Linked DNA regions of Homo sapiens: region 1 is linked to region 2. The links come from fine-mapping of genetic effects on gene expression. Tissue or cell type: whole blood. Region 2 holds a variant in brackets; the other region holds the start of a gene. All regions are shown on one strand. Distances are between the middles of the regions.

The links. PIP is the estimated chance that this variant, and not a neighbour inherited with it, causes the effect.
Region 1: it holds the start of PLD4, and the variant in region 2 is fine-mapped to the expression of PLD4 in whole blood (TOPMed, PIP above 0.99).

The regions. Positions count from the first base shown.
Region 1 is chr14:104,922,379-104,928,771 of GRCh38, reverse strand. PLD4 (phospholipase D family member 4) reads right to left here and starts at 3,893. Exons shown (of 11, transcript NM_138790.5): 1 at 3,782-3,893; 2 at 1,542-1,631; 3 at 906-1,099; 4 at 1-23. The coding sequence starts at 1,631. RefSeq lists enhancers at 3,059-3,568, 3,551-3,720, 6,115-6,164.
Region 2 is chr14:105,027,525-105,035,024 of GRCh38, reverse strand. It overlaps LOC124903398 (a long non-coding RNA gene), which reads right to left and starts at 2,168. Exons shown (of 2, transcript XR_007064368.1): 1 at 1,835-2,168. RefSeq lists an enhancer at 914-1,415. The variant C/G (reference allele first, on the strand shown) is at 3,140.

The DNA.
Region 1 (6,393 bases), 110 kb after region 2:
GGATGCTTTCCACAAGGACAAGCCTGTGGGGAGAGCCACACTGGGCTCAGTATGGGTGCGGGAGCCCCCAGCCCACCTCACATCACCTGCCCCATCCCACTGCCAAGCCAGAGCAACCGTTGCTCAGGTGGCCCCCGGGATGAGCCCAGGCCAAGTGTGCAGGGTAAGGGTTTAAGGTATAGGCAACAAAACAGACTGGGCAGGGTGGGCCTGAGCCCAGCATGCTGCTGGGGTGGTGACACCCAGGAGCAATTTGGGAAGGAGCCTGAGAGGGGCTGCCTGGTCCAGAGCAGGCTAGACTGGGGGGTCCTGGCCCCACTCAGCCCTGAGGCACTGCCCACAGGGAGCAGCTGCTCCTGAAGCCGGGCAGAGTAGAGCAGAGCTGTGGAGTCTGGGGTCTGGGGTGGCCTCGTGGTGTGGAAGCCCTTGGTGGTGGCCAGAGCTGGCCTGGAAGGGAAAGGTTGGGCCAGGGGCAGGTAAGCTCCCGTTTCCAGGGGATGTGTGCAGGATGGCCCAACAGGTTCCTCCGGGGCAGTCCTGGGATTCCAGGACCCCAACCGCAGGGAAAGAAGGGTGGGAGGGAAGGATGAGGGGCGGCAGGGGACAGTGACATTACCCCCAGGGGTGGAAGGACTGAGGGGGTGAGCCTCAGCACAGGCAGTGTTCTCCAGCCTGTCAGAGCCCCCAGGTGGCAGCCTCTGTTTGCTGCAAAAAGCACCACACGCCTGCCCCGTCCCCAGCCCCCACTCCAGCTCATATGGTCGTGGCCCTCCCTGGTGACCTGCACCTTCCTGGAGGAGCTGGTAGAGGGCCCCCCTTATCTCACGGGCAGATCCAAGGGCAGAAACACAGGCAGCAGCCCCAAACTGAGACCTGCCCCCGCAGGCCTCCATGGGCTCACTTACTGGCAGGAGTCCCTCTGCTGCCTGGCCTCTGCTTCCAGGGGCTCCCAAGCTGGGCTGGAGCCATGCTCCCAGGACCTGGGCACGTCCTTGGGCTGCACCTGGCCCCAGGTGGGAGGACGGGGCACTTGCCACAGGAGGCAGATAAGAGCCACGGAGCCCAGCCACAGCACAGCCAGCGCTCCCAGGACCTGCAACTGGATGGGGCAGCACCCGCAGGGTCACCAGACAGGGCGGGGCTTGACTTCTGGCTGGGCCACGATGGCCCCTCCAGTGCTGAGACAGAGACCGTCTTGACTTCCCGGACCTGGGCTGCCACTGGGGTGGGACTAGGGTGGACAAGGGAGAGGGGAGGGTGATACAGAGAAGGCCCCCAGCCCAGGGTGGTGGCAGGGGTCAGGGGGCCTGCAGCCCACTCTGCAATGCTGTGGCTCGTGGTAACTGGCTGTCCCCAGCACCTCCAGCAGGGGCATAAAGGGAAGGTCTGGAGCAGCCCAGGGAGGCTTCCCTTGCCCACCAGTCAGGGCACCTCTGCTTGGAGGCCCCCTCAAGGCTGCTTGTGACCTCTCCACTCTGGCTCGGAGCTCTTGAAAGGCCATTGATCCCAGCCACCTCCCCCCTGGGGCCCCCCAGTCCTACCGTGCCAGCCTCTCTGTCCCACGGGCGGCGGGGCGGCATGGAGCATGGCCATGTGGGGGCCACTGCTGCTTTCCAAAGAGGCTTCAGCATCTGCACAGGGCAGCCTGGCATCACCAGCAGCTCCAGCTCTGCCCAGAACTGCCCCTCAGTGCCTGGGCAGCTGGGCACTGGGGACACCCCTGCACAGACACCCACATAAGCCCCCAAAAGCCCCCCACTCATGCCCGAGGTCACGCCCTGGATGTTGGGGGTGTGCTTTCCACGAGGACAAGCCGTGTGGGTGTTGGAGCCCGCAGCCGGCCACATGTCACCTGTCCTGTCCCCCTGGCCAAGCCGGAAGGACTGCTGTTAAGGCGGTCCCCAGGGCTGAGCCTGGGCCAAGCACGAGGGGCGGGCGGGCGTCTGTGCCTAGCCACATGCCCCGGCTTTCTGTGTCTCCCCTTTCAGGGTCTCCCACTCAGTGAGTATCTAGGTATTTGCATCTCAGTTCCCTGTTTCAACCACAACTGAAACTGCGTCTGAAAGGGCTGTTTCTGCTTTTGTCGCTTGGTCCTCTTATTGCTGGCCTATAAATAACTGCTTCCCTCCTGGGCTGGGCTCCTGTCTTGGCCCCACGGCAGCCCCTCCAGAGAGCCACAGGTCAGAGGGGGCAGCTGAGCAGTACCCTTGCTGGAGAGGCTAGGCGTGGAGAGGGCAGAGATGGCGGCAGAGTGGGACCCCTACTGCTGGCAGAGGGGGTTGTCCTCTGCTGCAGGGACTCGCCTTATCTCCTCAGAGTGGTCACCCCACAAGGAGCTGGGAGCCAGGCCATCTGGGCCCTGTGGGATGTGGGCTCCCATCCCCACTCCTACCCCCAAAGCAAGCAGTCAGGCTGCCCCAGGTGCCACCATGGGGGAAGGGTGCCTCACAAGTACAGAGGCGCCCTCCCCGGGTGCAGGGAGGGGTCTGTGCCCAGCATGGTCACCTGGCTGGCCAGCCTCTGACTGAGACATCCACCAGGGCAGGAGCTGGCTGGCCCCTGGCTGGGATGGGGATGTCTCCGAGGTTTGGGGCCTGGGCCTGGGCAGTGCTGAGTGCCAGTGTCTGCAGCCAGGCTGGGCGCTGGGACCCAGGGCTCGGTGGGTCGGCTGTCCACCCAGGAGCAGCCAGCTCAGCCTCCAGGCCTCTGGGGTTCGTCTGGGCTGTCCTCCCACGGGTCAGGGCTGAGGGCTTTGAGAACCTGGCCTGCCTCAGCATGGGGCGGAAATGCCAGGAACACCACAGGAGTCGGGCCTGGACTGAGTCTGCCCTGGAGACCAAGCGTTATGGGGGATTGGGGGTAGGAGCATAAACCAAGTGTGGGGACAGGGGACTCAGGCCAAGTCACTGCGGCCCAACTCCCCCCACGCTGGGGGGTCCTGCAGAGGTGGGTGGGTGCCGCCCCCACCCCAGAGCTGAACTCTGGGGGATGCTCCCCCCACCCCACAGAGGAGACCTCAGGGTGCCCACCGTGTCCCCACTGTCCCCAGGGATTCAGGGCCCAGCATCGGGCCTTTGCTCTCCCCCACTAACTCTCAGAAGAGGAAACATGGAATCCTGGGCTGTGGCTGGTCAATGAGAGGAAACATGGAATCCTGGGCTGTGGCTGGGCAACGAGGTGCCAGGGCTGTTCTTGGACAGCTGCTCCCCACACTCCCTGCCCTCACCAGAGAGGACCTTTGCTCCCTTAAATGCTCCAGGCAGACGGGCAGCTCAGAGCACAGAGGCGCTGCCTCTTGCAGGCCCCATCTCAGACTTGGAGCCTGTCCAAGTCCCCTCCCAGGACTACAGACCCCAGAGCGCCTCACCACCTCCTCCTGCAATGGAACCTGGGAGGACCGCCAGCCAGGTTGGCTCAAGCTGAGAGACCCCTGCAGAGTAGGGCTGTAGCCCCCTGGTCCCATGGTAGATAGCGTAAGACCCTGCAGACATCAGAGGTCATGGCTGAAGGTGCCAGATTTCCTGCCCTGCAGGGCATTAGGCATGGCTGCCAGTCCCAGGCTGAGGTAGAGGGCCCAGCTGTCACCTGGCTGGAGAGCCAGGGCCCAGCTTATCCCAGCTGCACGGACTGGGGACGGAGCGAGTCATCTACAGGACTAGCTGGAGGCTGTGTGACTCTCTGGACCTGGGGTTGCTGGGAGGCTGAGGCCATAGGGAGGCAGACAGCAGCCCTTTCCCCATGCCTGGCTTTTCTCAGCTGCCCTGGCCTCATTGGCACATACCTCTGGGGGTCCTGCCTTGGTGTCTATCCTGATTCCAGCCGCAGACTGCAGGCCCTCAGCTCACGGGGCAGGCTCGGTGCTGCCTGTGCTCCACACCAACCTCCTCTTCTCTGCAGCTCACCTCCTCCTCTCTGCAGCTGGCTCCTTCCCCTTCCAGCTACTTCCTCTTTGTCCTGAGAGGCCCCCTCTCATCTGAGACAGAAACAGACGGCTGGAGCTGGGTGGGCGGGCTAGAGGGTAGGGCTGAGAACCTTCACCTCCAGGAAAAATCTACACCCCACTCCCTCGAGGTAGAGGCCCTCCAGTTGCGGGCCTACGAATCGGAGTCAAGTTCAGCTGCAGGCCACAGACACCTAAGGAACAGTGGCTTCAGCAAGGTTGTTCATTACTCTCGAACACTAAGCAGGTCCAGGGGCTGGCAGGCTAGAGACGGCCTTGCTAGAGATGATGGCATTGCTCCACTGCCATTGGGAGCCAGGCTCTCAGATCCCAGTCCCTAGGATCCCTGCCTTCATGGCCTCACAGTGGCTGCTGGAACTCAGCCATTGCCTCTGTGTTCTTAGCAGAGAATAAGGGACATCCCAGAGGAGACTTCCTGGAAGTCCCACAGGGCACTTCCACTTATCTGTGATCTGGAACTTGATCTAGAACTTAGTCACATGGCTACACTTAGCTGCAAGGGAGGCTGAGCAATGGAGGTAACTAGGGTCTTTATCTTGGAGAACGAAGCTGGGGCTGCTCACTGGCATATCTGAAAAGGTGGGCCTGGCTAGAAGCTCCTAGCAAGGGGCTCTGCCTCCCACTGCCCCACCCCCCGACTGGGGTCCCTGAGTAAGGTCTGGGACCTTGAGAACACTCCTACTTTCAATGAGGTCTGGGTGTCCACCCTGGCTCCTCCTTGTAAGGCCTATGTAGGGCAGGGGTCCAGGGTGATGGCCTCAGGGTGCCTGCAGGACACCAGTCAGGAGGGTGCAGTTCCCAAGGGTGGGGCCTGTCAGCTGCACCCCTGGGGCCAGTCTGGGTGGGCCAGGAAGTGAATGGGGAAGAGATCCATCCTCTCCCTAGCCCCTCCCAGATCTCTCTTCACCTTCCTGATGCTCTGATTTGGCCTTGGGTTCAGCCCTTACCTCCCGGCCATGGTTGGGGAGCCCCAGCCCTCTGGCTGGGTTGCTGGATGCCTGAATGCAGCTGGGCCCCAGGCATGCCCCCGAGGGTTGGGTCCTCCAGGGACTCTGGGTGAGGGTTACTCTGGGTATGGGGAGGGGCAGCCAGGTGGGTCCTGCTGTGACATTTGCAGGGCTGGGGCATGAGTATGAAGGGAGGCTGCCTTCCCTGCACTCAAGCAAAAGGCAGTTAGACAGAACAGGTTCTCTTCTGTCTTTTTTTTTTTCTTTTTCCTTTGAGAGAAGTCTCGCTCTTGTACCCCAGGTTTGAGTGCAACGGCTTTATCTCGGCTCACTGCAACTTCTGCCTCCCGAGTTCATACGATTCTCCTGCCTCTGTCTCCCAAGTAGCTGGGATTAAGGCACGTGCCACCACGCCCGGCTAATTTTTGTATTTTTTATTAGAGACGGGGTTTCACCATGTTGGCCAGGCTGGTCTCGAACTCCTGAACTCAGATGATCCACCCGCCTCGGCCTCCCAAAGTGCTGGGATTACAGGCGTGAACCACAGCGCCCAGTCTCTTCTGTCTGGACAACAATGGTGTGTGAGGGCCTGGAAGGCCAGGGGCAAGTGGAGGACCCCAGGGCTCCTTGGAGCACTCTCAGAAGTCCTTGCAGGAGGGCCAGCCCCAGCCAGTCCCCTCTCCGATTTCCCCACATTGTGAGGGGCCTCAATGAGCCCACATGCTACACCCAGCCCGTGGGTCTGAGCTCATTGCAGCCCCAGAAAAGCACCACGTCACCTCCCCTGGCTGCCCCTCAGGCCAGCAGGACTGGGTACAGCTCAGGCAGCTCTACCTCGGGAGGATGGATCCAGGCTTGGGGATGTTTAAGCAAGGAATCCTGGGCCTTGGGCTCAGGGTTCGGTGGACTGTCCTCTTGGCCTCTCAGGCTGCTTACCCTGGAAGAAAGATTGAGGCTGGAAGGGGCGTCTAGATTCGGGACCCAGGGCAGGCCTCTCAGTGGCTCCGAGGCTGGCTGTGTGGCCAGGAACGACCTGAGGGCAGCTCCTTGCCGGCTCTGCTCCCTGCGCTGCAGGCCCCACCCTGAGGTCTAGGGCCCTTTGGTCCCATGGGGTGTGGGGAGGGACTTTGGGGATTTCCCATGAAGCAAAACTTTTTTTTTTTTTGAGATGGAGTCTTGCTCTGTCGCCCAGGCTGGAGTGTAGTGGCGCCATCTCGGCTCACTGCAAGCTCCGCCTCCCAGGTTCAGGCCATTCTCCTGCCTCAGCCTCCAGAGTAGCTGGGACTACAGGCGCCCGCCACCATGCCCAGCTAATTTTTTGTATTTTTAGTAGAGACGGGGTTTCACCGTGTTAGCCAGGATGGTCTCAATCTCCTGACCTCGTGATCCACCCGCCTCAGGCTCCCAAAGTGCTGAGATTACAGGCATGAGCCACCGTGCCCAGCTAGTGCATATGTGTTTCTAGTTATTATATCTTCCTTATGG
Region 2 (7,500 bases):
GACCTGAAGTCAGGAGTTCAAGACCAGCTTTGCCAACATGGTGAAACTCCGTTTCTACTAAAAAATACAAAAATTAGCCTGGGCATGGTGGCGGGTGCCTGTAATCCCAGCTACTCAGGAGGCTAAGGTAGGAGAATCACTTGAAACCAACAGGTGGAGGTTGCGGTGAGCCGAGATGGTGCCATAGCACAACAGCCTGGGTGACAGAGCGAGACTGTCTCAAAACAAAAGAAAAAACAAAAAAAACCCACTTAGGAACTTGACAGTTGCAGGCCGACCCTCAGGCGCTGCATTTTCCTTGACGTAATTGTGCACAGAAAGACCATATTTCCATTTTATACAAACACTTGCAAACAGAGGCATCATAAAACCAAACGGGGGCCCAAGAGGCGTTGCTTTCCTTGGCTTTCCTCATTCTTAGATGATTTGTTTCCCACATTTTTTTCTCAAAAGGAGGAAGTGACCTGTGGCCTAGCAAGTGTCATGGGTCAAACTGTGCTGGTTGCGGGTGGGACTTCACAGTGTCACCACGAGTCATTGCTGCCCTCTCACGTGTCTCAATTTCTCTCTCCGGAGGTCTAAGTGTCTCAATTTCTCTCTCAGGACGTCTAAGTACCTCCAGAAGGGCTCAAAGTGCGGAGTGAGCCACTCTTACATGCGCTTCCTGGACAACCTTTTAAACTAATTTTGTTGGGGGTTTCCTGTAGGACCGTCGCACATCGCAGCGGGTCAACCCCCCGGACACTCCTGCTTGGCCCCCATTCACCCAGGAGCACCTTTCCACTGGGAAAAGCAAAATGTCCTTTCTTTTTGGAGCTGAGGAAACTCAATCTCTCATTTACCTATGAAAACAACAGTTGAGTTCCTCATGCAAATGTGCATACAAGGCAATGGAGAAGACCCTTTAAAATGCACCTCCGAACTAGAATTAGGATCCTAAACAACAACTTCCCAGGGGGAAAAAATCCCAGCCAAGACCACTTCCTATAAACTGTCCTCAGCCACCCCTAACTTTGTAGCTCTCGCCCACCATGATTATAAACGCCAAGCTCAAATCCTCTCATAGCGCAAGGTCATCTCTGGTACCCCCACAAAGCCAAAGAATACAGGTAATGTAGCAGGAGCCAGAGCCTTAGACCCAGAAGGACCTGTCCATGACTCTTGAAACGCCACCAAGAAAACAGAACACCCCAAAAGGGGTGAGTGGTGCCATTGTTCTGAGTTCTTTACAGGATTTGAGTCATTAGACACCTCTAGATTTTTTTCTTGGTACTGAAGTTGGTGAAGGGGAAGGAGGAACAGGGTGGAAGAAAAGTAAGACAGGAAGCAAACATGGAAACCGAGAGCGCGACCGGGAGCGAACGCGGAAACCGAGAGCGCGACGGGGAGCGAACGCGGAAACCGAGAGCGCGACCGGGAGCGAACGCGGAAACCGAGAGCCTGACGGGGAGCGAACGCGGAAACCGAGAGCCTGACGGGGAGCGAACGCGGAAACCGAGAGCCTGACGGGGAGCGAACGCGGAAACCGAGAGCGCGACGGGGAGCGAACGCGGAAACCGAGAGTATGGTTTTGTTTTGGTTTTCTCTTTTGCATCTGTGAGGAATTTTAGGTAATTCAGAAAGTCCTTGTTCCCCATAATTTGGAATTCTCATTCGGATTTGACCAAGGCAGGTAGAGTGGGTCAAATCTAATGGGAGAAAGACCGGAAAACATTTTTTTAAAAAAGATCCCAACAATATGATTACTGAGCACTCTAATGGTAAAGAGAAACTGAGACCAGCTGGTTGTTAATCATAACTTTAGCCAAGACGAAAACCCAATTAAGCTACTTACCTAGGAATGGGTCTCAGGCTGAAGACTGCCATCTTCCATTCTAGAAGCAGGGGAAAACTCAAATTTGCCTTCCCTGTTGAAAGCAGGCTCGAACTCCGGAAAGGAGTTATCTGCCTTCCACCGTCATGGAAGCAGGAAAACTTGCCTTCCTTGTTGGAAGCAAGTAAAACTCCAAAAAAAGGAGTTGTGTTACAAGAAAGGGGTCCCGATCAAGACCCCAAGAGAGGGTTCTTAGATCTCGCACAAGAAAGAATCAGGGCGAGTACATAAAGGGAAATAAATGTTGTTAGGAAAGTAAAGGAATAAAAGCATGGCTACTCCGTAGACAGAGCAGGCCTGAGGGCTGCTGATGGCCCGTTTTTATGGTTACTTTTTGATGATATGCTAAACAAGAGTGTATTATTCATGCCTCCCCTTTTTAGACCATATAGGGTAACTTCCTGACGTTACCATGACATTTGTAAACTCTCATGGTGCTGGTGGGAGTGTAGCAGTGAGGATGACCAGAGGTCACTCTTGTGGTCATCTTGGTTTTGGTGGGTTTTAGCTGGCTTCTTGACTGCAACCTGTTTTTAAATCAGCAAGGTCTTTATGACCTGTATCTTGTGCCAACTTCCTAGTCTCATTCTGTGACTTAGAATGCCTTAACCGTCTGGGAATGCAGCCCAGTAGGTTTCAGCCTCATTTTACCCAGCCCCTATTCAAGGTGGAGTTGCTCTGGTTCACACGCCTCTGACAGTTGCACAGAAAAATAAACTGTAGATCTCAACCAAATTTTGGGAGATCTGGGATTCTCTGGAGGGAGGGAAGCTCCCAGTCTTCAGCAAATTGTCCTATTGGTTTGAGCCGTAAAGAAAGCTCAAGCTGGTACCAATCACTGATAGATTTGTTGAAGGTCAGGGTCACCTCCACTCAGAGTCTTTTTTTTTTTTTTTTTTTTTGTGAGACAGAGTCTCGCTCTGTCGCCCAGGCTGGAGTGCAGTGGCGCAATCTTGGCTCACTGCAAGCGCCACCTCCCAGGTTCACGCCATTCTCCTGCCTCAGCCTCCCGAGTAGCTGGGACAACAGGCGCCCGCCACCACGCCCGGCTTATTTTTTTGTATTTTTAATAGAGACGGGATTTCACTGTGTTAGCCAGGATGGTCTCGATCCCCTGACCTCGTGATCCGCCCGTCTCGGCCTCCCAAAGTGCTGGGATTACAGGCGTGACCCACCGCGCCCGGCCTCAGAGTCCTTTCTGTTGGTTACCAAATTGGTAAACCAAAACGTATCTGAGGCTGGGTGCATGGCTCATACCTGTAATCC[C/G]AACACTTTGGGAGGCTGAGGCAGGTGGATCACCTGAGGTCAGGAGTTCCAGACCAGCCTGGCCAACATGGTGAAACCCCATTTCTACTGAAAATACAAAAATTACCCGAACATGGTGGTGGGTGCCTGTAGTCCCGGCTACTCAGAAGACTGAGGCAGGAGAATCGTTTCAATGGTCTGGAAAGGTGGGACAATTCAAATCGGGAAGGGGGCTTCTAGGTGATAGGTAAATAAGAGACAAAAGTTTGCATTCTTTTGAGTTTCTGATTAGCCTTTAATTGAATACACAATTTATAGGAATAGTCACTTACGCCTTAGTCCAGCTTAGTGAAACAATAGGGCAAAGAAGCCATCAGCTGTGCGTTTGTCTCACCGGAGCAGAGGGAGGACTCTTGAGTTCTGCGTGTCTTTTGTCCACAAGGAATTTTCTGTGGACAAATTTTGAGGGAAGGACATAGCTTTTTTATGTTTGTAGCTATTTTATTTAGGAATAGGATGGGAGGCAGGTTTGCTGATGGAGTTCCCAGCTTGACTTTTCCCGTTGGCTTAGTGATTTTGGGGTCCTGAGATTTATTTTCCTTTCAGTTTCTGTTATTGCAGCCAATCTGTTGGCTCTGTTACCCAGACTGGAGTGCAGTGGCACTATCTCAGCTTAACTGCAGCCTCGACCTTCTGGGCTCCAGCGATCCTCCCACTTCAGCTTGAGTAGCTGGAACCACAGGCAGGCGACACCATGTGATATAGTTAGGCTTTGTGTCCACAACGAAATCTCATCTTGAATTGTACTCCCCATAATCCCCACGTGTCAAGGGAGAGACCAAGTGGAGGTAACTGAGTCATGGGGGTGGCGGTGCCCCCATGCTGCTCTCACGTAGTGCATTTGTTCTCAAGAGATCTGATGGTTTGCAAAGGGCTCTTCCCCCTTTGCTCGGCACTTCTTTCTGCCACCTTATGAAGGTGTCTTGCTTCCCCTTTGATGGCCTCCATGATTATAAGTTTCCTGAGGCCTCCCCAGCCATGTTGAACTGTGAGCCAATTAAATCTCTTTCCTTTATAAATGACCCAGTCTCGGGCAGTACTTTATAGCAGTGTGAAAGCAAACCAATACACCACGCCCGGCTAATTTCTTGATTTTTTGTAGACGGGGTCTCGCTATGTTACCCAGGCTGGTCTCAAACTCCTGAACTCAAGTGATCCTCCCACCTTGGCCTCCCAAAATGTCAGGATTACAGGCATGAGCCACCATGCCCAGCCCCAAAAGGGGCATTTTCTACCATTTAAATAGTGACAGCTCTGCCAGTGACCATGGCTCTTTGTGACAAAAATATTAAACAACATAAAGGAAAAGAAAAAGATGGCTGGGAGGCTTAGTCACAGGCTGAGGGCCTGCCTTGACAGGAGTGTCCTGAGCATCTCCTCACTGGCTCTCTGGGGACTTCCTGGTACATATGGGCCTAAGGTCTCCACCCTACCACAGACCCAACAGCCCACAGCCCCAGGGTTGGCCCCAGGAGTCAGGATGAGTGATGAGGGGGTGGGTAGGGCCATAGCAGCGTCCTGCCTGGAATCTGAACTGTGCACAAATGCACCCAGGCTGCTCCCAAGTGAAGGGGCTCAGCTGCGAGGCTGAAAAGCTGAATGCATTTTTTTTTAATTAAACAGAAGCCTTTTTTCCTTGACTAGGTAATACATATGCATGGGAGGTAATTCCAAAGGAACAAAAAGACGGACATGGAACCTTCTAGCCTGGCCTGAGCCCCAGCCACCAGGGCACCACCCAGAGATAGCCCCTGGGGATCCAGCCATAGATACATTGTACGATACATAGTACTTAATGTACTTTTTTTTTTTTTTTTTTTTTTTGAGATGGAGTGTCTGTCTGTCGCCAGGCTGGATTGCACTGGCCCTATCTCAGCTTACTGCAACCTCCACCTCCCAGGTTCAAGCGATTCTCCTGCCTCAGCCTCCCAAGTAGCTGGGATTACAGACATGTGCCACCATGCCCGGGTAATTTTTGTATTTTTGGTACAAACAGGGTTTTACCATGTTGGCCAGGATGGTCTCGATCTCTTGACCTCGTGATCCACAAACCTCGACCTCCTGAAGTGCTGGGATTACAGGTGTGAGCCACCCCGCCTGGCTTAATGTACTTATTTATTGAAGTCAAAACACAGAATGCCCTGAAAGGGAGCACACAAAACAGATTCAACACCACCATTCAGATCAAGACAGTGATGGTCTCCAGGTCCTGGGAGACTGCCGTGCTGCCTGAGGGCCATTCTCTGGCACGGTGCCCTCTGCCTCATCTGAGCTTTCCATCTGTGGAAGCAGCCATTACTCCTGAGTTTGGCTTCTCTCCCGAAACGTTATGCTTGTGGGACCCATCCATTTGTTTGTGTGCAGCAATGTTTGCTCGTCTCATCTCACAAGTGTGCCACTGTTGAACATACCCACCTCCAGTGTCCATTCTCTTGGGGACATTTGGGTTGTTTTCAGGTTGGAGCTTTCACTGGGTGGAATGGCTCGCGCCTGTAATCCCAGCACTCTTTGGGAGGCTGAGGTGGGTGGATCACAAGGTCAGGAATTCGAGACCAGCCTGGACAACATGGTGAAACCCCATCTCTACTAAAAATACAAAAAATTAGCTGGGTGTGGTGGCGCACGCCTGTAACACCAGCTACTCAGGAGGCTGAGGCAGAAGAACTGCTTGAACCCAGGAGGTGGAAGTTGCAATGAGCCGAGATCGCACCATTGCACTCCACCATGGGCGACATAGCGAGCCTCTGTCCCCCCAAAAATAGAAGTTAAAAAAAAAAAACAGAGAGTTGAATCTCTAAGTTTAAATAAAAGGTTGTATTTGGGTGTAAGAAGTAGGACTGCAATCTGGGACATATAGACAGACCATGGTGGTCTCTGGTATGTCCAAAGAATGAAGGGAAAAGGTTAGGGTTTTATTAGGGAAAGCGTAGGCTACACAGGTTATTTTGAAAGAAAGTATATTGGAGCTGGAAGTGTCTTATAAGAGCTGGTGAGTTTTTATTTTTCATAGTTTTAAAATTAAATTCTTTTTTATAGAGACAGGGTCTCACTATGTTGTCCAGGCTGGTCTCGAACTCCTGGCCTCAAGTGATCCTCCCACTTCAGCCTCTCAGGATGCTGGGATTACTGGCATGAGCCACTGTGCCTGGCTCTGAGCTGGTGAGTTCTGACTGGCAAGTGTTGGTAGTTGCTAGGTAGGACGTGTAGTCTGGGAGTTGGCTAGGCTCCCGCAGTTTTGGATTGGGCTTGTGAGGCCACGTGTCAGGCAAGTGTTCTTGTATAAGCAGCTAGCTGTCCTTGTGTGACTTGTGTAGTGACCTGTGGTTTGGAAACATCTCATGATAGTTCTTATAATCGCGCACATCATACACGGGAGACTTCCCTTCATGCCCTTCCCCAGCTCCATGTAGCCAGGGGATTGTCACAAGTGATCCCGTTTTGAATCGGACAACTTTCACCAGGCTACTATGAGTAACCCTGCTATAAATTTTATTGTATAAATCTTTTTGTGAACATATGCATGCCTTTCTACGGGACACATCCTGACAAGCAGTGCTAAGTCATAGGCTCGGTGTGTGCTCAGGTCTGGCAGATCCTGCCATACATCTCCAAAGTGATTGTCCAGCTCACCACTTTCTTGTTCTTCAAGGTTGTTTTGGCTCTTTTTGGCACTTTGTATTGCCATAAAAATGTGAGAATCAGTTTGTCAATTCCCATAAAAGGTTGGTATTTTGACTGAGATTGCTTTGAATCTGAAGATAAATTTCGAGGTCTCTGATATCTTTACAAGAGTAAGTCTTCCAATCCATATGCCTGGTTTATTCCTCCATTTATTTAGATTTCTCTTGGCAATGTTGTGTAGTTTTCTGTGTAGAGGTCTTACATATTCAATGTTAGATTTATCCCTAGTGCTGATGTTTTCAGTGGTTTGCAAATGACATCATTAAAAAAGTATTTTATAATGGTTTCTGGCTTTTTTTTTTTTTTTGGGATGGAGTCTCACACTGTCGCCCAGGCTGGAGTGCAATGGCGTGGTCTTGGCTCACTGCAACCTCTGCCTCCTGGGTTTAAGCGATTTTCCTGCCTCAGCCTCCCAAGTAGCTGGGATTACAAGCTCCCAACACCATGCCCACCTGATTTTTTGTATTTTTAGTAAAGACGGGATTTCACCATGTTGGCCAGTCTGGTCTGGAACTCCTGACCTCATGATCCGCCTGCCTCAGACTCGCAAAGTGCTGGGATTACAGGCATGAGCCACCACGCCCGGCCAATGGTTTCTTATATATACAAATAGAATTGATTTTCCTGTATTGGCTATATTA